4 linked regions of the Homo sapiens genome follow. The protein of the gene in region 1 interacts with the protein of each later gene in a pairwise test. Each region holds a gene or a part of one and is shown in the gene's direction. Other genes may lie near its edges. The genes, in order: RTN3, NDRG4, CDIPT and PTPN9.

What was found.
Region 2: the proteins of RTN3 (region 1) and NDRG4 interact in binary tests that used the Homo sapiens proteins (3 or more experiments, as listed by UniProt).
Region 3: the proteins of RTN3 (region 1) and CDIPT interact in binary tests that used the Homo sapiens proteins (3 or more experiments, as listed by UniProt).
Region 4: the proteins of RTN3 (region 1) and PTPN9 interact in binary tests that used the Homo sapiens proteins (3 or more experiments, as listed by UniProt).

What each region holds. Positions count from the first base shown.
Region 1 is NC_000011.10:63,677,112-63,684,527, forward strand, and holds the start of RTN3 (reticulon-3), read left to right. Parts: upstream 1-4,388; 5' UTR 4,389-4,525; coding exon 4,526-4,667; intron 4,668-7,416. UniProt on the Homo sapiens protein: May be involved in membrane trafficking in the early secretory pathway. Inhibits BACE1 activity and amyloid precursor protein processing. May induce caspase-8 cascade and apoptosis.
Region 2 is NC_000016.10:58,510,124-58,514,132, forward strand, and holds the end of NDRG4 (protein NDRG4), read left to right. Parts: intron 1-521; coding exon 522-560; intron 561-1,298; coding exon 1,299-1,453; 3' UTR 1,454-3,496; downstream 3,497-4,009. UniProt on the Homo sapiens protein: Contributes to the maintenance of intracerebral BDNF levels within the normal range, which is necessary for the preservation of spatial learning and the resistance to neuronal cell death caused by ischemic stress.
Region 3 is NC_000016.10:29,860,206-29,867,230, reverse strand, and holds the start of CDIPT (CDP-diacylglycerol--inositol 3-phosphatidyltransferase), read left to right. Parts: upstream 1-4,004; 5' UTR 4,005-4,373; coding exon 4,374-4,416; intron 4,417-4,510; coding exon 4,511-4,645; intron 4,646-5,971; coding exon 5,972-6,125; intron 6,126-6,568; coding exon 6,569-6,650; intron 6,651-7,025. UniProt on the Homo sapiens protein: Catalyzes the biosynthesis of phosphatidylinositol (PtdIns) as well as PtdIns:inositol exchange reaction. May thus act to reduce an excessive cellular PtdIns content.
Region 4 is NC_000015.10:75,569,290-75,576,321, reverse strand, and holds part of PTPN9 (tyrosine-protein phosphatase non-receptor type 9), read left to right. Parts: intron 1-7,032. UniProt on the Homo sapiens protein: Protein-tyrosine phosphatase that could participate in the transfer of hydrophobic ligands or in functions of the Golgi apparatus.

The sequences.
Region 1 (7,416 bases):
ATGAGGTCTCGCTATATTGTCCAGGCTGGTCTTGAACTCTTGGGCCCAAGCCATCCTCCTGCCTTGGCCTCTCAAAGTGTAGGGATTACAGAGGTGAGCCACCATGACAGCCAGGGAGCACTTTAAAAATTCCATCTTGGGCCGGGCGCGGTGGCTCACGCCTGTAATCCCAGGACTTTGGGAGGCTGAGGCAGGCAGATCACGAGGTCAGGAGTACAAGACCAGCCTAGCCAACATGGTGAAACCTCGTCTCTACTAAAAATATAAAAATTAGCCAGGCATGGTGGCATGGGCCTGTAGTCCCAGCTACTCGGGAAGCTGAGGCAGAAGAATCACTTGAACCCAGGAGGTGGAGGGTGCAGTCAGCTGAGATCATGCCACTGCACTCCAGCCTGGGTGACAGAGTGAGACTCCATCTCAAAAAAAAAAAAAATCCCATCTTGGACAAAAAAAAGGAAAAAAAAAATCCCAGCTGAGCCATTTCCCACCAAAAACTTCCACTCAATCCCCATTATTCTTAAGACAAAGCCTCAGTTCTTTGGTTCAATACTACTGCTTCTCCAAAAACTGGCCCCAACATATCTTCCTCATTTTAGATGTTATCCCTATATCTTCCCTCCTGTCCTAATTCAAGCCTTCAGCTCCAGCCAATTTGGTCTAACCAACACCCAAGACACCTTATACACGCTCACGTCTGAGCCTTTAGCCACCACATATGGCTGTACAGTCTGAGTGTTACACCAAGGCAGCTTGTGGAGACAAGGGGCAAGAGGGGATCAAATCTAGGTGAGGTTCTGCTAGCCAAATCAGCATGGAACTGTATCATGGGTGGGGCTGGGAGAAAGAGGTTCTTTTTTGTGATTCATCTGCCCAGAAGAGTACTTTTTTTGTATACATTCACAAAAGCAACCCCTGTATTTGCTTCATACCATCCTTTTCTGCTTTTAATGACTTCCTTACAATTCCAAACACCTATCTAACTTTGAGCATCTTCACAAAACCTCCTGGCTGGGCGCAGTGGCTCACGCCTGTAATCCCAGCACTTTGGGAGGCCGAGGCAGGCAGATCACGAGGTCAGGACATCGAGACCATCCTGGCTAACACAGTGAAACCCCGTCTCTACTAAAAATACAAAAAATTAGCCAGGCACGGTGGCACGCACCTGTAGTCCCAGCTACTCGGGAGGCTGAGGCAGGAGAATCACTTAAACCTGGGAGGCAGAGGTTGCAGTGAGCCGAGATCGCACCACTGCACTCCAGCCTGGGTGACAGAAAAAAAAAAAAAACCTCCCTAAGCCACTACAACTTCATGGTAATTCCTTCCCCTCGTTGTTTTTGTTTTTGTTTTTGTTTTTGTTTGAGGTGGAGTCTCACTGTGTTGCCCAGGCTGGAGTGCAGTGGCATGATCTTGGCTCATTGCAACCTCTGCCTCCCAGGCTCAGGTGATTCTCGTGCCTCAGCCTCCCGAGTAGCTGGGATTACAGGTACACACCACTATGCCTGGGTAATTTTGTATTTTCAGTAGAGATGGGGTTTCTCCATGTTGGCCAGACTAGTCTCAAACTTTTGACCTCAGGTGATCCGCCTACCTTGCCCTCCCAAAGTGCTGGGATTACAGGCGTGAGCCACTGCGCCTGGCCCCTCTCTTTTAAATTCATTTAATTTACTTGCCATCTAATCAAAGCACTATGGTTTTATGGTGTTTGGGGTTGTTTTTAGTTGCTATTTAATTTATATTATTTAACTTTATGTGAGTATGTTTTTTGTCCTAACTAGCTTGTAAGCTCATTGAAGACAAGACTAACATATTTTGGAGGTCTCTTCAAAGTTCCCAGAATTGTGTTATACACACAGCACATGATCAATACACATTCATAGAACTGGCCGGGCACAGTGGCTCACGCCTATAATCCCAGGTGTGGGAAACTGAGGCAGGAGGATCACCCGAGGTCAGGAGTTCAAGACCACCCTGGCCAACATGGTGAAACCCCGCCTCTACTAAAAATACAAAAATTAGCCGGACATGGAGGCATGTGCCTGTAATCCCAGCTACTCAGGAGGCTGAACCAGAACTGCTTGAACCCGGGAGGCGGAGGTTGCAGTGAGCCAAGATGGCACTACTGCACTCCAGCCTGGGCAATAGAGCAAGACTCCATCTCAAAAAAAAAAATGTCTGAAGGGTCTGAAAAGACCAGTAAGACCACGTGCATATCTTGCTTTTTAACTTCTCTGCTGCTACATATTAGGAAAATGGACTTCCTTCCAGCTGGAGTCTCCAGATTGTAGCAAGTGCTGTCAGAGTTAGCTACCAGCATCATTTATTTCCTTATCTAGCACTTAATAATGTAGATTTTTGTTTGTTTGTTTTGTTTTAAGGAGCAGAGCGTTTAATAGACAAGAAAGAAGGAAGGAAGAAGAAAACAGCTCCCCTAATAATGCGATTTTTAAAAAAACATATGCACGTATCAGAATGGGTAGATAACTGGCTTGGTTATCCGATCTGCTATTATTTCCCTTTGCCATCCAAGAGACAGTTTGCTGCATTATCAGCTGATGCAGTAAGTGCCAGGGTAAGGTATTAGCCACAAAGTTATTTTGGGAAATATTTTTCTATGCCTTTTTCAGAGCATTGCAAAGGCCAGGAGTCATCCTCCCACCCCCTGGGGCTTTACCTGACCTTAAAAACTCAAGGGCAGATGTAGTACACAGCTTGTTCTAGAAGATTTCCACTGGTCAGATCGCCTTTCCCCTCAGTGGCAGCTTGGCTGACCACCTCCCGCTTCATGAGGCTGCATCTTTACAGGATCTGCTGATCCTGCAATTGTACTTTGGGTCATCGATTGCTGCTTTAGCAGTAACAGTCGACAGCCTTGATTTTTATTATTTCCAGGATACAGTCCTCCTTTTTTTTTTTTTATTTGACGGAGATTTGCTCTTTCACCCAAGCTGGAGTGCAATGGTGAGATCTCTGCTCACTGCAACCTCTGCCTCCCGAGTTCAAGCAATTCTCCTGCCTCAGCCTCCCGAGTAGTTGGGATTACAGGCGCCCGCCACTACCCCCAGCTAATTTTTGTATTTTTAGTAGAGACAGGGTTTCACCACATTGGCCAGGCTGTTCTTGAACTCCTGACATCAGATGATCCACCTGCCTCGGCCTCCCAAAGTGCTGGGATTACAGGTGTGAGCCACCGCGCCCAGCCAACAGTCCTCCTTTAACAAAGACTATGCACCTTTCCAATATTTTGACCAGATGTAGGGAGAAGGCTTCGAATTTGGCAATCCAGCCCAGGAAAAGCAAAAAATGAACAAAATCCAATATAGGCTAGAAATCTGGTTTTAAATACATGTTCTGCTAAGGACCTCTTTTAGTCTATGAATAAAATTCAATTATGTGTATTTTGTGCCTTATTCTGATTTTTTTTACTTTTTTTTTTTTTTTTAAGGCAGGAAGGTTCTCGCTGTGTGGCCCAGGCTGGACTCCAACTCCTGGGCTCAAGTGATCCTCCCTTCTCTGCCGTAGCAGAGACTACGGGCCTCTGCCACTGACTGCGGCCTTATTCTGAATTTTTAATATCTAATTTTATCATCCCCCATAATCACAGCCAACATTTTCTTATCTCCTGGCTCTTCTTCATCAGCTCAGCATTTTTTTTCCCTCTCTAAAATATGTCGTCTCTATCTGACAGTCTATTCGGAGGAAAAGAGAACCTTAAGACCCAAGGTGGACCCTTCTCTGGCAACAGTAACGAGATAAGAATACGAAGCAGGTTCTGCGACTGCATTGCAATGTGATTGGAATGAGTAATCGTTTTTCATTCTGTATAGCATCTTTCTCCACCTACCAAATGGGGGGCCGTGCCATCTCTGCCTCTCGGTGAGGAGATATTACGACACAGCCAGTGAGATTCACAAAGCACCTTGCAGAGTGGGCCTACTCTACACTCTGGTTTTCAGTTTTTATTGGAGTCACAGGTGGGAATGCATCAAACAAAAGATATAGGCTCTGGAATGTACGGGAAAGAGAGTTTCCATAATGGAAGCCCAAAGACATTTCTACCGTTAAAATACATAATCTGCCGACCCTAAAACATTCACATAAAGAGGCAGGAGGGAATACTATCCCGCAGCTCCACGATTAGCCGCAGTCGTGGGCGGGGATTGGGGCTTGGATACGCCTTTTGCGTCTGGTCCCCAAGGGACGCTCCCCAACCCTCGGCGCGCGAGGCGCCGCGTGAGGCCGGCTTTGCCCCTCCTTCCCTGCAAGAGCGCAGAGGAGCGGTTCTTGCGCCTGCGCCCTGCGCCGCTGCGCGCTTTGGCACCCGCTTGGGGCCCTTTGTGCGCATGCGCGCTCGCGCTCCCGCCCTCTAGCTGCGCTCGGCTGAGTCAGTCAGTCTGTCGGAGTCTGTCCTCGGAGCAGGCGGAGTAAAGGGACTTGAGCGAGCCAGTTGCCGGATTATTCTATTTCCCCTCCCTCTCTCCCGCCCCGTATCTCTTTTCACCCTTCTCCCACCCTCGCTCGCGTAGCCATGGCGGAGCCGTCGGCGGCCACTCAGTCCCATTCCATCTCCTCGTCGTCCTTCGGAGCCGAGCCGTCCGCGCCCGGCGGCGGCGGGAGCCCAGGAGCCTGCCCCGCCCTGGGGACGAAGAGCTGCAGCTCCTCCTGTGCGGGTAAGGCGCGCGGGGAGCCCCCGCCCTGGGAAAGAGGGCGAGCGGGAGCCTGGGGGCTGGGGGGATTAGGAGGCGAGGCGGGAGGAGGACGAATTACCCTCGACTACTGACGGCTTCAGCCCCCCGGGGACGAGCGTTTGGAAAATGGGCAAAGGGGAAGGGGAACGTAAGGTTGTGCAGGCGGTGAGGAAATAGCGGGGTGTGAGGAAAACAGGTTGGGGGCGGGGAGATAGTCCAGTGGGCGTTAACGCCAAGACTGGGCAGGTGGGGAAAAATACCAGCTCGTGGGATAAAATGGAGAGTTGCTCGATGCATATGGTGAACCTGGGTGATTTAGTGAGGATTAGAGAGATTGAAAGGATACGGGCAGGTGGGTGGTGGGAGAAACAATTTGTTACTATTTTTGAGGGGATGGTGGTGAAAGGGTTGCATTGCAGGTTTGCAGACAGGTGTTGACATAATCAAGCATTCATGATAGTCCTCCAAAATATTTTTGGCTGCCCATGGGAAGGATGAGGAAGTTTAATGGAAGCATTGTAGCCTGTTTTTTTTGTTTGTTTGTTTTGTTTTTACTGTTTTCGGCTAGACTCCATGAATGCCGGATTTTTCTGAGGCTCCGAGGTAGAAGGAGGCGTGATGAGAATAGCTCAGGGAAGATTTGGGAGGGAGCTGCTAATGGTCCAAGATGGATCCGTGGCTGCATCTGCAACAGCCTGCTCTTCCCTGGCGCTGCGTGGGGGTGGGGACACGCAATCAGTCGCTTATATTCTAGAAAATAGAGTCATGCTAAGCTATCAACATGTTTTGATTTCATGTTTTCTGTGGGCTACTATTGATCGAAGTATAACAAAGGGGGGTGTTTATTGCAGAAAGGGGGAGGGGGAGAACATTCAGACAAAGCAAGGGCTGGTTGAGTCCCCTTCTCCCATCTCTGTGAAAGACTAAGAACGAAGCTGCAGACCTCCTTTAGTTTGCATTGTATACGCGTCTGCCTGCTGGTAAGAGCTGCCTGGCAAGCTCCCCTTATGCAGAAATCTGCAGTGCAGATGCCTTCTTAAGGGGGGAAAAAAAAACCACCATGGGCAGGTGGTAGTTCTCAAAGGAACGGAGTCTTTGAAGGGAAAAAAAATGCCTTTTGTCAAAGGCAGGGCCGTAAATTCGGGAGAGTAGAGATAATTTTGCTCTCTATTTAGTTATGTTAAAGGATTTTGATCATTTTTTTTTAATGCTTCGTTGTCTCCTTTGGCAGAATCTTGGGTTCTAAAGAAAAAATTTCTGATCTTAACCTTAAATGTATTATTCTCTACGTGTTTTTCTAGCAGTGAATTTTCACCTGTCTGAGAGCTTTGGAGCCCTGTTGGATTTTTTCAGTGTGGTTATGGCCATTTCAGTAGAAACAGGCAGTATCAGGAAGCTTTTGCAGATAAAAGAATGAGGCAGCAAATTTAGAACCCTGTCTCCTTTAAACCACCAGCCTTTTCTCCAAATTTTTGTGTTCTGGGCTAAGGTCCAGATGAACAGCGACTTCCTTATAACTTAGCAACTTGATCTTTTTGCTTTAATCACTTGTCATTGCTTACTGTTTGGTAGGCCCTTTTGTACTTACCTTTTGGGTTTTCTTGATTTTTCATTTTTGATTCAGACCTAAGTTTTAGAAATTTGGCTCTGTAAGCTCAAGATAAGACAGATGTTAAGTGTTGAAGAGTCATTTTAGTTAGCAGATTTGAAAATTTAGTCCTAGTTTGTTTATAACTAAATGGTGAAATCATTTGAGATTCAACTTTTTCATTCTTTTAATGCACTTATGGAAGAACTGGCCTAGTAGGCCAATGAAATAAGAGTATTTTGTTCACAGACACACAGGCATACCACAACCTAATTGGCACCTAAATTGGCAATACGAATTTAATGACATAACATATTTCTGTTTGGCTTACCTTTTTTTATGTCATCTACCCTTGTCACAATTTTTATCTATTTATTGTGTATTTTTTGCACTTCTCTTTATAATAGTGGAAAAGGTGCTGAAATTATGTGTTTTGTCGAAAGTAGTAGAATTATATCGTGAAGTGCTGTTCCAAGTACATGAGTTTGCATTACATTTTCCGAATAATATTAAATGCCGCGGTTTCCACTCGTTATTTCTTTCTCTTTTCTTTTCTTTCTTTTTTTTTTTTTTTTTTTTTTTTTTTTTAGACAAGGTCTTGCTCTGTCACAGACTGGAGTGCAGTGGAGCCATCTTGGCTCACTGCAACCTCCATCTCCGGGGTTCAAATGATTCTCATGCTTCAGCCACCCGAGTAGCTGGAATTACAGGCGTGTGCCACCACGCGTGGTTAATTTTCTTTTGGTTTTTTTTTTTTTTTTTTTTTTTTTGGTTTTTTTTTTGAGACGGAGTCTCGCTTTGTCGCCCAGGCTGGAGTGCAGTGGTGCGATCTCAGCTCACTGCAACCTCCATCTCCCAGGTTCATGCCATTCTCCTGCCTCAGCTTCCCAGTAGCTGGGACTACAGGTGCCCACCACCATGCCCGGCTAATTTTTTGTATTTTTAGTAGAAACAGGGTTTCACAGTGTTAGCCAGGATGGTCTTGATCTCCTGACCTCGTGATCCGCCCACCTCGGCCTCCCAAAATGCTGGGAATACAGGCATGAGCCACCACACACGGCCCACACCTGGTTAATTTTTATATCTTTGGTAGAGATGGGGTTTTGCCATGTTGGCCAGGCTGGTCTCAAACTCCTGGCCTCA
Region 2 (4,009 bases), on another chromosome or scaffold:
CCTGTGGGAAGGCTGGGGAGGACACCCAGGAATAGAATGCTCTCTGGAGCAGGGCAGAGCCCTAGGGCCCACAGGGAGGCTCCGCAGGAGCACAGAGTCTGGAATCAGGGCACAGCAAGCATTTGCGAGGTGAACGGAAGAACATTGTCAGGCGCTGAGACGCGTTCTCAGGGTCCTGGGGAGAAACTCCACCAGGCAGCCCCAAGCTGGGAAGGGCACAGAGCGGGCAGGCCTCCCCCATTCTGTATGCAGGAGACTGAGGCCTAGGAGAATGGTGAGGGGATAAGCACCCCACCTGTCAGGGCTTCCTTGGGCCAGAGATCCTTCTGGGGGCCACTGCTGGGTGGGCAGGCAGGAGTGGGCTTCCAGAAGCCTCTGGCCCTGCCCCCAGCCTCTCTGTGCCTGTCCTTTGTCCCATCTCTCTGGCTCATCTCAATGCCCTTGACTCAGCGGACCACGCTCTTCACTGTGTTGTGTCTCCCCCATCCCCGCCCCCTCTCCGGCTCTGTCTTCTCTCTTAGTTGCGTACTTGAAGGACCGAAGGCTGAGTGGAGGAGCAGGTAGCCCCACGGCCCTTCCCCTGATGCATGGACGCCCAGCCTCCTCCTCCCCCGCTCCTTCCTCTGCGCAGTGTGCTGCAGCCAGGCCGCATCTTGCTGTGGTTTGGAACCTTCTTGTGTCCTGTTCAACTCAGAAACCCCACAGATTCTTGCTTTTCTGCAGGCTTGGCCTCTAGGTTGGCTGGGTTGCAGAGCAGTCTTGCTTCTAGGTTGTCATGAGCTGCGTGGCTTCCAGAGCTCTGGGGATAGGAAACAGACCCTCCTTAGAGGTAGAGCCCAGGCCTGGCCCTGCCTGAGCCACATAGGTGGCCAGGAGAGTTCCGGAGGGTAGAGTTTGCTGCCCGCAAGTCTTGCTTGTGAAACTCTGAATTAGGGAATTAGGGCACAGTCTGAATTGAGGGCAGTATGCGACCACCGCTCCGCGTCCTCCTTTACAGAAACAGTCCTACTTCTCCACTGGCATCCTCTTGAGGGAGGCACGGCTGGAAACCCAGCACCTCCCTGCACCAGCTCAGGGCTGCCTGGTCAGCTGCTGGCCGCAGCCCCCTAGGCCCACTCACTGTCGCCGGCCCTGCATGCCCCCAGCCCGACAGCTGTCGCCAGCCTCCTGACTCAGGAGGAGCCCTTTGTGCCTTCGAGGAACGGTTCGCTGGCCGCTTTGCTTGCAGCCTACTTTTCCCACCAGAGGCACCTGGCCCTGCCCGCCAGTCCTCAGGCCCATCCTGTCTCTGTCCACAGTGCCCTCAGCCAGCATGACCCGCCTGGCACGCTCCCGCACTGCATCCCTCACCAGTGCCAGCTCGGTGGATGGCAGCCGCCCACAGGCCTGCACCCACTCAGAGAGCAGCGAGGGGCTGGGCCAGGTCAACCACACCATGGAGGTGTCCTGTTGAAGCCCTTGATCCCGCTGACGACGCCCACGTCGAGGCCCCACCGCCATCCTTGCGCCGGCTCATGTTCCCTTTAGTTTATTTTTGTGAGGGCAAAGGGGAGGAAATGGGGTTCTGTTTGAAAAAAATGAGGGGATCTTAGATGCTGCAGCAGAACAGTCTCCAGGTGTTTTAAGGGGCTCAGTCCTCCTCATCCCATCTCACTCTCCGTGGTAACTTAGCCAACTTGACCCCTCTCATCCCACTCCCGGCGGCCCAGGCACAGAAGGGCAGGGCCATAGGGAGGGAGATTCGCTACGGATCCAGGCCATTCCTGGGTGAGCCCTTGGGCAGGCATGTTTGGAGATGAGAGAGGCTTCGAGAGGGTGGGTGCTGGGCCACAGGGGTGCGGGGCCAGCTCAGGCACTGGCGTGGGAGCCCTGGGAGACCCCTTCCCCCACCCTCCACCAAGCACACCTGTTTCTGTCTCATAGCACATGTGACAATCATCTGGACAACAGCCACAAGGGGGCGCTCGGACCAGGCAGCCACTTTCCTGGTGCTCTCTGGGCCCAGCTGGTGCTGTAGGGCCACGCAGGCAGGGGCGTCAAGGGGTTTCTCTGCCCAAGGAAGACAGAACATGGAGAACCGTCAGGGCAGGAACCCCACAGACTGTCCCTTCCAGCCCACACTCTGCCACCTCCTGGCCCTGTCCCAATTCTGAGCCAAGGCCTCCCCGAGGCAGAAGTTGCCTGGTCCTCTGTCCCCACAGTGACCTGACTGGGGGTGAGGGAGAAGGAGGAGAGAGCCCATGTGTGGTGTGTGTGCCCCTGAGAACTTCGTGGTGACTGCCTTTGGGAGCCCGCAGGTGGCCAGAGGCAGGGGTAGCTGAGTTCCTGGAGACCCCTTTTTTGCCCCCAGGTTCCCCAGAGGGCAACGCCATCAGTAGCAGTGTGGTGTTTCAGGCAGAGCTCTGGCCAGGCTGTGCCAGTGTGTCCCGGACGCATCACTAAGGAAGAGAGAGTTTATTTAGTCAACTGGCCCAAGGCAGCGAGGCTTCTACAGTCCCACACCCCATAGCCGCCTGGGCTGGGGCTTACTGGGGGCTGAAGGTTCTGGACATGAACAAGGGTCAGGTAGAAGAGAAAGGCTTCCCCTACACCCCAGCCTCCTGCTGTCCCCTGAAGCCCAGGACTGCGTTGTATGCTTTCCATCCACTCACCTTACCCCATAGCATCTTGCGGCCCAGAAACCAGAGCCATTTGTCTCAGACCCTAAATCAATAATCACAAACCCCAAAACGGGAGAGAGCAGTGAAAACATGCAGGGCTGTGGACGGGGGAAGGGTTGTGGCGGGTGTTCTGAGGCTGAGAGGACACCTATATGCGTATTTCCTCTACACACATCACCCCCCTTCTATAATCTTAAGCCATGACTAGCCTGGTGGCGTGTTAGTTTCTGCCCAGTTCTACCCCCTCATGTGCTTCTTCTGAATACTGAATGTGACTGTTTGAAAGCTGGTAGAATTCATCCCTCTTACTGTAGATAACACTGCAAATCTTGGAATTTTGTTTTTTGCTGTTTCCAGATGTATCTATAAATATCTATACATTATATGTGTGTGTGTGTGTGTGTGTGTGTGTGTACATCGGGTCCTCCCATGTGTGGTGTTCTTCTGGAGGTTGTCTCTTTGGTCAAGGTGAACTTTTAATGTTTATTATTTTCTTCTCCGCACAAAGTAAAGAGCCTAATTTTGTGTATTCTGGTGGCTGCTGTCATGAGATGATAAAATGTAAAACAAAACTCTAGTCAACGTAGAAAGAGTTAACTGTGCTGAAAAACTAATAAAGAACCTAAGAAGAATTCCAGTGTGGTGATGCCATGCCCATCATGGGAGGCTTTTGGAGAAACAGAATGTTTGGGCAGGGGCTGCTGGTGCTGCTTGGGTTTTGGGTTGAGGGTGCTAGGAGAGGATGGTCTCCACCCATCTTTCTATTTCCAGTACACGTCACATTATTTTACCGGTGAGATGAGAATGTCACAAACATTAAAAGCCTTATGTGCTCATTTCTGCTTATGTGCTCATTTCTCCCCTGACTCTGTGACAAAATACAGCTCTCCTCAGCCAGGCACGGTGGCTCAAGCCTGTAATCTCAGCACTTTGGGAGGCTGAGGCGGGCAGATCACTTGAGGCCAGCAGTTCGAGACCAGCCTGGGCAACATGGTGAAACCCCGTCTCTACTAAAAATACAAAAATTAGCTGAGCATGGTGGCGCGTGCCTGTAATACCAGCTACTCGGGAGGCTGAGGCAGGAGAATCGCTTGAACCTAGGAGGCAGAGGTGGTAGTGAGTGGAGATCGTGCCACTGCACTCCAGCCTGGATGACAGAGCAAGACTCTGCCTCAAAATAAAACAAAAAAACAAAATACAGCTCTCCAGAAAAAAATGCCTTAAAGACAAAACAAAACACCCCTGCCCTCCAAATCTCTTGCCTGAGTCACTACATTCCTTCAAAGATAAATGACCTACTCTTTGCCTTCTCCTAAACATACGATCATGTCTGACAGGGTTAATGATTA
Region 3 (7,025 bases), on another chromosome or scaffold:
GCAACCTCCAACTCCTGGGTTCAAGCGATTCTCCTGCCTCAGCCTCCTGAGTAGCTGGGATTAGAGGTGCATACCACCAACCCAGCTAATTTTTGTATTTTTAGTAGAGACAGGGTTTCCCCATGTTGGCCAGGCTGGTCTCAAACTCCTGACCTCAGGTGATCTGCCCGCCTGGGCCTCCCAAAGTGCTGAGATTACAGGTGTGAGCCACCGCGCCTGACCTAACGTTTGTATTTTTAGTTAAGACAAGGTTTCACTATGTTGGCCAGGCTGATCTTGAACTCCTGACCTCATGATCCACCCGCCTTGGCCTCCCAAAGTGCTGGGATTACAGGTATGAGCCACCGCACCCAGCTCCTCCTACTATTTCTTTCTTTCTTTTCTTTTTTTTAAATTTTTCTTTTTGAGACAGGGTCTTGCACTGTCACTCAGGCTGGAATGCGGTGGCATGAACATGGTTCACTGCAGCCTCAACCTCCTAGGCTCAAGTGATCCTCTGGCCTCCGCCTCTCAAGTAGCTGAGACCACAGGTTCGTGCCACCACACCTGGCTAATTTTTTTAACTTTTTATAGAGATGGGGTCTCTCTATGTTGCCCAGGCTATTCTTGAACTCCTGGGCTCAAGCGATCCTCCCACCTCCCAAGTAACTGGGATCACAGGCACATGCCATCATGCCTGGGGTATCACCATGTTGCCCAGGCTGGTCTCAAACTCCTGGACGCAAGCGATCCTCCTGCTTCAGCTTCCCAAAGTGCTGGGATTACAGGCATAAGCGACCACACCCAGCCAGGAAAGTGTGTAAGGCTCTAAACAAGGCACATAAAGTCTCTTGAGTCCCCTCTTACCTTGCCTGTAGACTCCAGCTGCTAAACTGCTTCTCCCTGCCCTAAATACACACAGATGCTCACACTGGCTCTGCGAAGACTGCTCTTTGCCTTTGTTCATGCAACCCCAACTGCTTGAAAGACTCCTACTAACCTCTTTTTTTTTTAACCTGGAAAATTATTTCTTTTTTTTTTTGAGATGGTCTCACTGTCGCCCAGGCTGGAGTGCAGTGGTATGATCTCAGCTCACTGCAACCTCTGTCACCATGTTGACCAGGCTGGTCTCAAACTCCTGCCCTGAAGTGATCAGCCCACCTCAGCCTCCCAAAAATGCTGGGATTACAGGTGTGAGCCACTGCACCTGGTGGAAAATTATTTCTTTAGGTGCTACCTCCTTCAAGAAGCTCCAAAGCCTGTAATCCCAACACTATGGGAGGCCAAGGAGGGCGGATCATGAGGTCAGGAGATCAAGACCATCCTGGCTAACACGGTGAAACCCCGTCTCTACTAAAAATACAAAAAAATTAGTCGGGTGTGGTGGCGGGTGCCTGTAGTCCCAGCTACTTGGGAGGCTGAGGCAGGAGAATGGCGTGAACCCAGGAGGTGGAGCTTGCAGTGAGCTGAGATCACACCACTGCACTCCAGCCTGGGCAACAGAGCAAGACTCCGTCTCAAAAAAAAAAAGAAGAAGCTCCATGGCTCCTGTCCTTCCTGTCCAATTGAAGCTGGGATAAGAGTACTATCCCACTGTGTCCATTTCTATTATGGAAACTTATCCAGACTGTATTATAATTGGCCATTTCCTTGTCTGTCCCCACACTGAACTGTGAACTCTTCAAGGGCTGAGACTGTACCATTCATTTCAGTGTCCCAAGCTCCTAAGACAGGGACCAACATATAGTGCAAACTCAAAAGGTTTGGTTAATATCGAATAGCCTTGGCAGCCATGGACCCTGCATGTACCTTTTCACCAGGAGTTGGCAGGAGGTATGCCTTGCTGCAGGTACGGTTTCTGTCCGAGCAGGAGATGGTGGAAGAGAGGGGAGAGGGCTGAGAATTCAGAATTTGAGGATCAGGGCAGAATAGAATGGAAGTGCACGGTTCAAAAATTCCCCCACCCTGCTGGGATATTGTGAAACCCTCACTCTCTCCCCTCCAGGTTCCTCACCTCTCTCCCAGGACAAAGAGCATCTCCCTTGAAGCCTCACTCACCAGGTGTCTGTGCCTCAGGTCTTGGTGAAGAATGCTGGAAGTAGAGGACCTAGTCAGAGAAAGGACTATCCCCGTGGCCAGAAGAGATGCGGCCAGGGCAGACGGGGCTAAGGGGATTCTCGGCCAGCAGTGAGGAGTGGGTACTGGGTTAGCGGGTGAGAGGGGCATTTCACAGGTCCTAGGGCTGGCTGTGAGATGGATGAGATGGGCACAGACTCCTGGAGAGTTCAGCTAGGGGTGGGAGGGGTCAGGGACTGTAACCAGGCATAGTGGGGGCAGCGGTTCTCTAGACACGGTGGTCCTGAGGCAGGGGGTTACCGCGTTTGGATATCTGAGTCGCTTGGTCTTGTGACTGCTTTTTTTTGATGGGCACAGGGTTCAAGTGGCAGCAAGCAGTGCACAAAGCCTCCTCCATGAGTTCTGCACTGATCTGGGACAGGTATTCCTCAGAACGAGATAACGAAGCCTGGGAAAGGAAAAGCCGGAGGGGTTCAGCCTGGGAGCTCCCACATGGGAGTGCTGGCTGTGGGAGTTCCCAGGCTGGGGCCTGTGGGTCCAAGGAGCTTGCTCCTGAAGGACTGGGCCTTGAGATTTAGCTAGAAAGCTCTGGACCTGGGGGAGGGGGGTTTGGTGGGGGTTTAGAGTCAGGGCCTAGTGCTGAGAGCTATGAGTCGGGGCTTCAGGACTCAGGGTTGAGGCTAGAGTCTCAGGGCCCGTGGCTCAGACCTGGCACGGGGTGCCTCTGCCTGGGAGGCTTTCACTTCATTACATTCCCACCTCTAGGGTTCCCTGCAGTGCTCACCGGACCTCCTCTCAAGGAGGGTGCAGCTTGAGATGGCCAGCTGCTCTTCTTCTCCCCCTCATTCCCCATCGGAGTGGACGCCATCCCCCTGGGAACAGTCGAAGCCTGAGTTGACCTGAGAAACCAGCCCGCTTTCCCCCAGAACCCAGTCCACCACCATTCCCCGGGCCCAGGTTTAAACAAGGCCTTTAGAGGAAACATCCCGCTGCCTCATTCCCTCTCACAAGAAAAAATAATAATAATAATAAAGGTTGCTTTATATCTTCGGGAGTGAGAGGGAACTCCCGCAACCCCCTACCCCTCACCCCTTCGCCTGGTGGGCCTCTCCTTCCTTCTTCCCTCCCAAGCACCTTCCCAAGCCGAGGCAGCCGACTTGACGCCCCAGACCTGGCAGATGGGTGGAAACCTTGGGCTACTCGGCAAAAGGAGAGACGTGGAGGCCTAAGGACCTCTGGTATAGGTCGTGGGGGATGGAGAATGGGAGATGGGGAGGAAGGCTGGAAAAGGGGGAGCCGGCTCCGTGTCGCTACCGGACGCTATAAAACCCTTGGAGTCTGCAGAGGTTCCGCAGCCTCGTTGCTAGGAGATCAGGGGTTCTAGAACTAAAGACAGAGGAATTTCCTAGCGCGCCCCGTTTGCTCCTCCAGCCTCCCCTCCGTACCCCTCCAGGTGCCTCCTTGAGGGCAGTGACCCCAAGCGCCAGACGCTTGAGAAGCTTGGGAGGATGACGTAGGGTGGAGCCTGCGACCTAATCCTCCCATCACAAGGGGCACGCGAAAAGCAACCCATCTGCAGGGCGCTCTGGAGCCTCTCTAGCCGCCTAGAGCCTGCGAGAGCAAAGGCGGCTGGAGACTTAGGGGGCGGGGAGTAAAGTGAGGACTGCACCAAATCTCCTGGCCTCTTGGGGACGCAAAGACTCAGGAGGAGGAATTTTATCGCCTTATCTTTGCCTCCAGGAAGTCATACCCTCCACAAAAGGAAAGCAGAGATTTTTATTCGGTCTTCTCTTTTACCCTTTCCTTTTCCGTTTCTAACTTTGCTTGACGTTAATGGTTCCTTCCTCCCTCTCCTCCTCTGCGCTTTGGTACGAGCCAAGGGAGAGGGGCGGAGGGAGGAAAAGGGAAAGGAAGCCGACAGGCCTTAAAGGGGCCGCAACTATTTTTTTAAGCCACTTTTTCCTCTCTCCAATTTTGCAACGACGGGCGCGGAGGAGGAGGTTCCCGGAAGCCACGCGCAGCTGGAGCAGCGGCGACCGCAGCTGGAGGCCCGGAGCGCCTGCGGGGCTGGCAGAGGCGAGGGAGGTTGCGGGTAGGAAGGGCGGACTGCGCGCGCCCCCTGCGTCCCGCGCACCTCGGGGCCGGTCCATGCTCCCGACGGCTGCGGGCTTCAGCATCTGGGGCCAGGTTGGGGCGGCGGGGTCCAGGGCGCAGGTGGTGCGGCCGATGCGCCGGGCCGGAGGCTGAGGCCGCGCTGCGGGGCTGGGACAGCACTGGCATCTCCAGAGCAGGCCCGGGGCAGCAAGGGAGGCGCCGCGATGCCAGACGAAAATATCTTCCTGTTCGTGCCCAACCTCATCGGTGAGTGCTGCCCACGGCCCCGGGCCGAACGAGAGGGCGAGGGGCCTTGGCGGGCTCCCTGATCCTGCCCTGTCTCCCCGCGTCCCGTTCCAAGGTTATGCCCGGATTGTCTTCGCCATCATTTCTTTCTACTTCATGCCCTGCTGCCCCCTCACGGCCTCCTCCTTCTACCTGCTCAGCGGCCTGCTGGACGCTTTCGATGGACACGCTGCTCGCGCTCTTAATCAAGGTGACAGACACCCCTCTCAGCCAGCCTTGGGGTTCAACAATCCCCTCCTCCCTTCCCCTGCCTCCTCGGGACCTCAGAGTCAGAGGGCTGTCATTCCCATCTCTGGAAAAAGCAGAACAGGATGGCCTGGGGCTTTTTGTTTTGTGTTTTGTTTTTTTGTTTTTGAGACAGGGTCTCGCTCTGTCACTTAGGCTGGAGTGCAGTGGCGCGATCATGGCTCACTGCAGCCCCCATCTTCTGGGCTCAAGTAATCCTCCCACCTCAGCCTCCTGACTAGCTGGGACTACAGGAGCGTGCCACCACACCCGGCTAATTTTTAAATTTTTGTAGAGACTGGGTCTTGCAGTGTCGCCCAGATTGGTCCCCAGCTCCTAGCCTCAAGCGATCCTCCTGCCTTGCTCCCAAAGTGCCGCGCCCAGCAAGAATGGACTGATTTTGTAGCAAAAGGAATTTAAGCTAGCTCTTGAGAACTCACTGCTTGTGAGAGGTGTGGATTAGCAAGACATGACATGGCGGTGGCGCTGCTGGAGGTCTCTCTGAATACAAGTCCATTCAGGCCAGGGGCGGTGGCTCACGCCTGTAATCCCAGCACTTTGGGAGGCCGAGGTGGGTGGATCACGAGTTCAGGAGTTCGAGACCAGCCTGGCCAACATGGTGAAACCCTGTCTCTACTAAAAATACAAAAATTAGCGGGCTTGGTGACGCGTGCCTGTAATCCCAGCTACTCGGGAGGCTAAGGCAGGAGAATTGCTTGAACCCGGGAGGCGGAGGTTGCAGTGAGCCAAGATTGCGCCATTGCACTCCAGCCTGGGCGACAGAGCAAGACTCTGTCTCGGAAAAAAAAAAACAAAAAACAAAAAACAGTGTATTCAACAGGTGTTTACTGGAGGCCTACTGTGTGCCCTGCATAAGCAGTTGGGGTTCCAGAAGGCATGCTTAGAGGGAGGATGGAGAGGGAAGGGTGATGGCTTCTGGAGGGTTGACTAATTTTTTAATCTGTTCTCCAGACCCAACTGTAAGGCTTCCCCTGAGGCATCAAGTCTCTATCTAGCCCTGGAGTCTTGGTTCTGGGGTTGATGAGTTGCAGACATAGCTTTCCTCTCCTCCTACCCTGTTCCCTCCACTCTCATGCCTTTCTCAGTTCATGCCATGGTGACCTTTGCCCACTGACCTCACACACAGCCTGTTTTCTAGCCTGCGTTCCTCCCCAGGCAGGCGGACACTTCCAGTCTTCGTTTACACCCTGCGTCAGAGTGATAAACCAAATATGGGCACCTGTCCTGCATCCACTGTGCCATAACAGCCCTTGCCCACCTAATCTTCCAGGAACCCGGTTTGGGGCCATGCTGGACATGCTGACGGACCGCTGCTCCACCATGTGCCTGTTGGTCAACCTGGCCCTGCTGTACCCTGGAGCCACGCTGTTCTTCCAAATCAGCATGAGTTTGGATGTGGCCAGTCACTGGCTGCACCTCCACAGGTCTGCTGCGATTCTGGGGGCCTGGGCCACTTGGAGACATTACAGTGGGGTGGGCTGAGCCTAGACGGAAGGGTGTCTGGGATGGCACTAGGCATCCTGGAAGGGCTCCTTTTTAGCTCTGCTTTGTAGAAAGACCCCAGGCAAACCTGCCTCTCTTTAAAGCTTCAGTCATGTTTACAGTTGCATTAAGCAATTCTTAGGACTCTTCTGGCTGGGTATTCTAGGATTCCATATAGGTGACAGCTTATAGGAAGGGGCATGGGAGCTTTCAAATGTGGCATTTGAATCCTGACTCTGCCCCCAAATAGGTAACTGTGGCTTTCGGCAGGATACTGGTCCTTAGCCGTGCCCAGTTTTCCATCTGTACAATAGGTGTTAACATGAGGATTGGATGCATGGTAGTGGTCATGAAACCTTGTGGGTTCCCCTGTTTTCTCCCCAAGTTCTGTGGTCCGAGGCAGTGAGAGTCACAAGATGATCGACTTGTCCGGGAATCCGGTGCTTCGGATCTACTACACCTCGAGGGTAAGCATTTCCTGCACACCCCACCCCTCAGGCTCTTGGCTGTGGGAAGCCCTGGGCTGAATCCTGGTCCTAGCCTAGGAGAAGGCGAGGGCGCAGAGCAGGGCCTGCCCAGTCACTCCAGGAGGAGGGCCCGTAAGCTGAGGCGTGGAGGAGGAGGATTGGTGGGGAAGGCCTGTGTGAATTACTCCAGGGAACAAGTGGGAATGAGGCCTGCAAAGAGAAGGGACTGAAAGCGGGAAGGGAGATAAGCCAGAGAGGTCTGCAGGGCTGGAGTGTGGACTTGATTCCAGGAACACAGGCAGCCTCTGGAAGGATTTTTAAAAAGATAATGGCTGGGCATGGTGGCTCATGCCTGTAATCCCAGCGCTTTGGGAG
Region 4 (7,032 bases), on another chromosome or scaffold:
GGCCTCAGGTGATCCACCCGCCTTGGCCTCCCAAAGTGTTGGGATCACAGGTGTGAGCCACTGCACACAGCCAGAAGTACCCTTTTGTTTTTTAACTGAGTCTTGCTCTGTTGCCAGGCTGAAGTGTAGCGTTGTGATCTCGGCTCACTGCAAACTCTGCCTCCCTGATTCAAGCGATTCTCCTGCCTCAGCCTCCCAAGTAGCTGTGACTTCAGGCGTGCGTGCCACCATGCCCAGCTAAGTTTTGTATTTTTACTAGAGACGGGGTTTCACCATGTTGGAGGATGGTCTCGATTTCTTGACCTCGTGATCCACCCGCCTTGGCCTCCCAAAATGCTGGGATTACAGGCCTGGGCCGCTGTGCCCAGCCAAGAGTACTCTTTTTTTTTTTTTTTTTTTTTTTGAGATGGAGTCTTGCTCTGTTGCCCAGGCTGGAGTGCAGTGGCGCAATCTCGGCTCACTGCAAGCTCCACCTCCTGGGTTCATGCCATTCTTCTGTCTCAGCCTCCCGAGTAGCTGGGACTACAGGCGCCCGCCACCACGCCTGGCTAATTTTTCATATTTTTAGTAGAGACGGGGTTTCCCCATGTTAGCCAGGATGGTCTCGATCTCCTGACCTCATGATCCACCCGCCTTGGCCTCCCAAAGTGCTGGGATTACAGGCGTGAACCACCGCGCCCAGCCAAGGGTACTCTTAAGATTTATTTAAAATATTAAAATTAAACAGCAGTACATAAGTGTTAGCCTTATCAAAGTGGTCCTCATGGGAACTGACACATTCACTCCGTAATGCTGCCCTATTGCTCAAACCAATTTAACATTTATTTGGAGTTGATTTAGAAGCTTGTGGCAGAATCTTTGAAATTTCTTCAGTGTAGGAAAATCCTTGTACTTTTGAGAGTCAGTTTGATTTCTGTAAATAGCAAAAAATCTTTTAGAGCCTTATTTAAAGTAGGGGATCAAATTCGGTTTACACATTTTCATGCAAAAGTGTAGTGCAGTTAGGCCCTTTTTGGCCTGTGTGAACAGCCTTAAAGATATTTCTTTTCGGCCGGGCGCGGTGGCTCACGCCTGTAATCCCAGCACTTTGGGAGGCAGAGGCGGGCGGATCATGAGGTCAGGAGATCGAGACCATCCTGGCTAACACAGTGAAACCCCGCCTCTACTAAAAATACAAAAAATTAGCCGGGCGTCGTGGCGGGCGCCTGTAGTCCCAGCTACTCGGGAGGCTGAGGCAGGAGAATGGCGTGAACCCGGGAGGCGGAGCTTGCAGTGAGCCGAGATCCCGCCGACAGAGCGAGACTCCGTCTCCTCTGTCTCAAAAAAAAAAAAAAAAAAAGATATTTCTTTTCTTTCTTTCTTTTTTTTTTTTTTTTTTTGAGACAGAGTTTTGCTCTTGTTGCCCAGGCTGGAATGCAATGGCGTGATCTTGGCTCATTGCAACCTCTGCCTCCCGGGTTCGAGCAATTCTCTTGCTTCAGCCACCCTAGTAGCTGGGATTACAGGCGCCCGCCACCACACCCAGCTAAGTTTTTGTATTTTTAGTAGAGATGGGGTTTCACTACATTAGCTAGGCTGGTCTCGAACTCCTGACCTCAGGCAATTCACCCACCTCAGCCTCCCAAAGTGCTGGGATTACAGGCGTGAGCCACCGCGCCTGGCTCCTTAAAAATATTTCTGAAGCAGAATACCTCCTGAGTGGTATCTCCTTCTGTACAGTCATATGAATCAGAAACCCAGAAGTCTTGGACACTGCTGTCCCTCTGCCCTTGTGTACAATACAGTGTTAGATTTTCCTGAATATCTCTTGAATTCATTGGCTTCCTTCCACCATCACTGCCATCACCCTATTCGAAGCTACTATCCTATCCTGACAGGACTTTTGTTTCCCACCTGGTCCATCCATATTCCAGAATCCAGAAGCCAGAGTCCTGTTGAAAATCTGATTTCATCTTCCCCTCAGCCTGCCTGCCCCGCAAAGAAGCATTCATAAAACTCTTTAGTGGCTTCTGGTTGCCTTTTTTTTTTTTTTTTGTGGAGACAGGATCTCACTTTGTCACCCAGGCTGGAGTCCAGTGGTGTAATCACGGCTCATTACAGCCTCAACCTCCTGGGTTCAAGCCGTCCTCCTGCCTCAGCCTCCCAAAGCCTTAGGATTACAGGCCTTGTCATTGCTCTTGAGATCAAATTGCAACTTTTGAATGTAGGCTATATATCTAGGCCCTTGAGCAGCCTAGGCCCTAGCTAGTTCTCACACTTGTCTCTGCTCCATGCACACTGGCCTTATAGTCCTGCCTTCTTTCCTTGTTTCCTCCTGCTTACAGGGTCTTTGCAGGAGCTGCTTTCCTCCATCTGGAAACACCCCCCTTTGTTAACCTCCTCTTCATCCTTCAGCTCTCAGGTTTCACCTCCTTGGAAGGCCTTCCTTGATTTCAGTTAGATTAGATTCTAACCTAATAGGTTCTCAGAGCACCATTTACCTGTCATTCACATCACTTATCACAAGTTAACACTTATTTGTGTGATTACATGACTGCAAGCAAGCTCTATGAGGGTTGGGATTATTTTCGCTTTTGCTCCCCATCATATGCACATTGCCTAGCATAATGACTGACATAATGACTGGCACTTACGGAAATACTTGCAGAATGAATGAAGAGTAGTTGTACTCTTGATTTGTATACAGGCAGCATCATCTTCTTTCAGAGTGGCTTAAAAATAAGCACATTACATATTTTGATTTTTTTCCCCATCAAATGGCAATATATACTTTGATTTATATGCTGTGTATGCATTGATATAGTTTTTGAAAGTCATGATTACTTAGTCTCATTTTCTGTCTAGGCATGTGTTGAACGGATACAAATCCTCATTTGTAACTTTGGTGTTTCTTGTTTTTCAGCTCCTCAATAATTATAAAGCCTACAATTGGGCTACGAGGACAAATATGATGTTTTTGCTTTTAAGGAGCTTATATGAATAACAATCGTAACAGTATCTTTTCTAAACTCCTGCTTTCAGTCAGGCTCTGTGGTGGGCATTTCACATGCAATTAATCGTCCCTCCCAAGATTGGAATTACTACCCTCACTTTGCAAATAAGAAAACTCAGACTGAGAGAAGGAAATTGCCCAAGGTCACATAGTTAACAAGTGATGTAGCCATGATTTCCACCCAGGTCTAGGTTTTCTGCCTTCACTGCCAGTGTTTCCTCTTTTACACTACATTACTTCCCATGAAGCCATTAGCCAATTTACTTAGGTGCCTAAGTGGGTATAAAATAGCTAATTTTGTGGGTTTTGGTATTGATATATGTGTTTGGTTTTGTTAATGCTTCTTAAAATATAGTTTGAAAAGTACAGATGAAAAGATACAGAAAACCTTTACTCAGCTGTGTATTGCCAGAGGAAACATACTGTATACTCTGTGCAAGAAATTATGATGAAATTACTATAGGAAAAAAATTTGTTCCTTAAAACAGAGTTGTCAACTCTCCATTTCAAGGTGTGGTCACAACTACAATAAAATTTTATTTTCTTTATATCTTCTTGTTCTTTTGCACAAGAAGGCTTGTGAAAGCCTTTCTTTTTCTTTCTTTCTTTTTTTCTTTTTTTTTGAGACAGAGTCTCGCTCTGTCGCCCAGGCTGGAGCGCAGTCTCAGCCCACTGCAACCTCCGCCTTCTGGGTTCAAGCGATTCTCCTGTCTCAGCCTCTCGAGTAGCTGGGACTACAGGCATGCACCATCACACCCGACTAATTTTTGTATTTTCTTTTTAGTAGAGATGGGGTTTCACCATGTTGGCTAGTCTGGTCTCCAACTCCTGATCTCAAGTGATCAGCCTGCCTTGGCCTCCCCAAGTGCTCGGATTACAGGCATGAGCCACCATGCCTGGCCGTAAAAGCCTTTCTTAATGGGCTGGCAGTTTGGCAGTGTGAAGGACAATTTCTACATATAAGTATTAATCTTCATTGTCATTATGTTATTGTGTTTTGAGACGGAGTCTTGCTTTGTTGCCCAGGCTGTGGGCAGTGGCACGATCTCAGCTCACTGCAACCTTTGCCTCCTGGGTTCAAGCGATTCTCATGCCTTGGCCTCCCGAGTAGCTGGGATTACAGGCACCTGCCACCACGCCTGGCTTATTTTTGTATTTTTAGTAGAGATGGGATTTCACCATGTTGCCCATGCTGGTCTTGAACTCTTGACCTTAGGTAATCCACGTGCCTCAGCAGCCCAAAGTGCTGGGATTACAGGTGTGAGCCATCTCACCCTGCCAAGACTCTTAACTAGAACTCTCACTAGATTAAAATTCTGTATAATTATAGCTGTTCAGGGTATTTTGGTTTTGCATGGATATCCCAGTGATGATTGATAGGATAATAGAGTAGTTTTCGAAAGTACTTATGTTTCTGTTAATAGTTTTATTTTTATTTTTTATTTAGTTTTTTGAGACGGAGTCTTGCTCTGTCACCAGGCTGGAGCACAATGGCACAACCTCCACCTCCTGTGTTCAAGCGATTCTCCTACCTCAGCCTCCCAAGCAGCTGGGACTGCTGGCATGCACCACCATGCCTGGCCAATTTTTATATTTTAGTAGAGATGGGGTTTCACCATGTTGGCCATGATGGTCTCTATATCCTGACCTCGTGATCCACCTGCCTCTGCCTCCCAAAGTGCTGGGATTACAAGCGTGAGCCACCACCAATTTATTTTATTTCATTTTTTAAATAATAGAGATAAGGTGTCACTATGTTGCCCAGGCTGGTCTTGAACTCCAGGGCTCAAGCAGTCTACCCACCTTGGCCTCCCAAAATGCTGGGAGTACAGGCGTGAGCCACCACGCCCAGCCTGAAAATTATTATTATTTTTGTTTCTTTTTTTATTTTAATTTTATGTTTTTTCTTTTTTTGAAAATTCTTAAAGTTTATGTTATTTAGACCTTACAATGTTGTGAGGATTAATAAGGAGATGCATGTAGAGCACTTAGCCCAATGCTTATATAATAAGTAGTCAGAAAAGTTAGCCATTATTATGATATTCATCATTGTTTTTTGTTTTTTTCTTTTTGAGACAGTCTTGTTCTGTCACCTAGACTAGAGTGCAGTGGCATGATCTCGGCTCACTGCAACCGCCGCCTCCCGGGTTCAAGCAATTCTCCTGCCTCAGCCTCCCTAGTAGCTGGGATTACAGGTGCCCGCCACCATACCTGGCTAATTTTTGTATTTTTAGTAGAGACGGGGTTTCGCCATGTTGGCCAGGCTGGTCTCAAACTCCTGACCTCAGGTGATCAACCTGCCTTGGTCTCCCAGAGTGCTGGGATTACAGGCATGAGCTACCGTGCCCGTCCTCATCGTTTTTGAATAGCGAAAAATTTTAGAACCATGTTAGCTTAAGCCAATTACAAGGGGAAAAAATATTCATATCCACCCTGGGGACCATCACCTAGTACAGGTTCTTATGAATTCCAGAAAATTATTATCTTGCATTTTTATAGTGTAGTTTTTAAAAGCCTATTCTAATTGTATGGTGTGGTTTTTGCTTTTTTTTTTGGAGACAGGATCTTACTCTGTCACCCAGGCTGGAATGCAGTGGCATGATCATAACTCATTGCAGCCTCGACCTCCCAGCCTCCCAGGATCAAGTGATCCTTCCACCTCGCCTCCCGGGTTCCTGGGACTACAGGCATGCTACCACACATGACTAATTTGTTATATTTTTTGTAGAGGGGGGTTTTACCATGTTGCCCAGGCTGGTCACGAACTCCTAAGCTCAAGCAATCCTCCTGCCTCGGCCTCCCAAAGTGTTGGGATTACAGGCATGAGCCACTGTGCCCAGTCTGGTTTGGATTTTTGTAATGGAATCTTTTAAAGCTAAAAATTTAACTGCTTTAGCGTGGACTTCAGAGATCTTTGGCATTTTTCCCAAAGGCAAGGGTTTTGTCCCATTTCTTGCGGCCAAGAACTTCCCTTTTCCCACAGTCTTACATGTCCTGTGCTAAATGTCATCTGTCTCCCTGGAAGTTACCATACGTCAAGGACCAAATGATTTATGATGTTAAATTGAGGTCTTCTACAGAGACAAAGAAGGAAGGAAAGGTGAAGAACTCTTATTATTTTCATTATTGCTGATAGTTTATGATACTGTAAGTAACAATTAGGTAAAACCTCATTTGGATGTGAGAATTTTGCTGTATTAAAAATTTCTGGTTGGGTGTGGTGTGGCTCATGCCTGTAATCCCAGCACTTTGGGAGGCCGAGGCGGGTGGATCACAAGGTCAAGAGATCAAGACCATCCTGGCCAACATGATGAAATCCCGTCTCTAGTAAAGATACAAAAATTAGCTGGGAGTGGTGGCGCTCACCTGTAGTCCCAGCTACTCGGGAGGCTGAGGCAGGAGAATTGCTTGAACCGGGAGGCAGGGGTTGCTGTGAGCTGAGATCGCGCCACTGCCCTCCAGCCTGGTGACAAAGCGAGAATCCATCTCAAAAAAAAAATTCTGAGCACAAGGGTCTTGGACTTTAGTTTTGTGAATATTAAGTGGCCTGGAGGTTTTCTCTAAGGAACCCAACCTAGTACTTATGAATGAATTGAAAAGACCCTCCTTTAGAAAGGAGCTGAACTGTTTTTTTTTTTTTTTTTTTGAGATGGAGTTTCACTCTTGTCACTATCTCCGCTCACTGCAACCTCCGCCTCCTGGGTTCAAGCGATTTTCCAGCCTCAGCCTCCCAAGTAGCTGGGATTACAGGTGCCCGCCACCACGCCCAGCTAATTTTTGTATTTTTTGTAGAGATGGGGTTTCAGCTTATTGGCCAGGCTGCTCTTGAACTCCTGACCTCAGGTGATCAGCCCGCCTCGGCCTCTCAAAGTGCTGGGATTACAGGCGTGAGCCACCATGCCTGGCCAGGAGCTAAACTGTTTTAAAGAGGTAAAAGTTAAGACTCATTGTGAGTATATTTTAGTTTCATTTTCTGACTTTTATGCCTTTATTGTCTTGGAAAAGACATAGTAATTTTGGAGTACTTAAACTTTATTTTC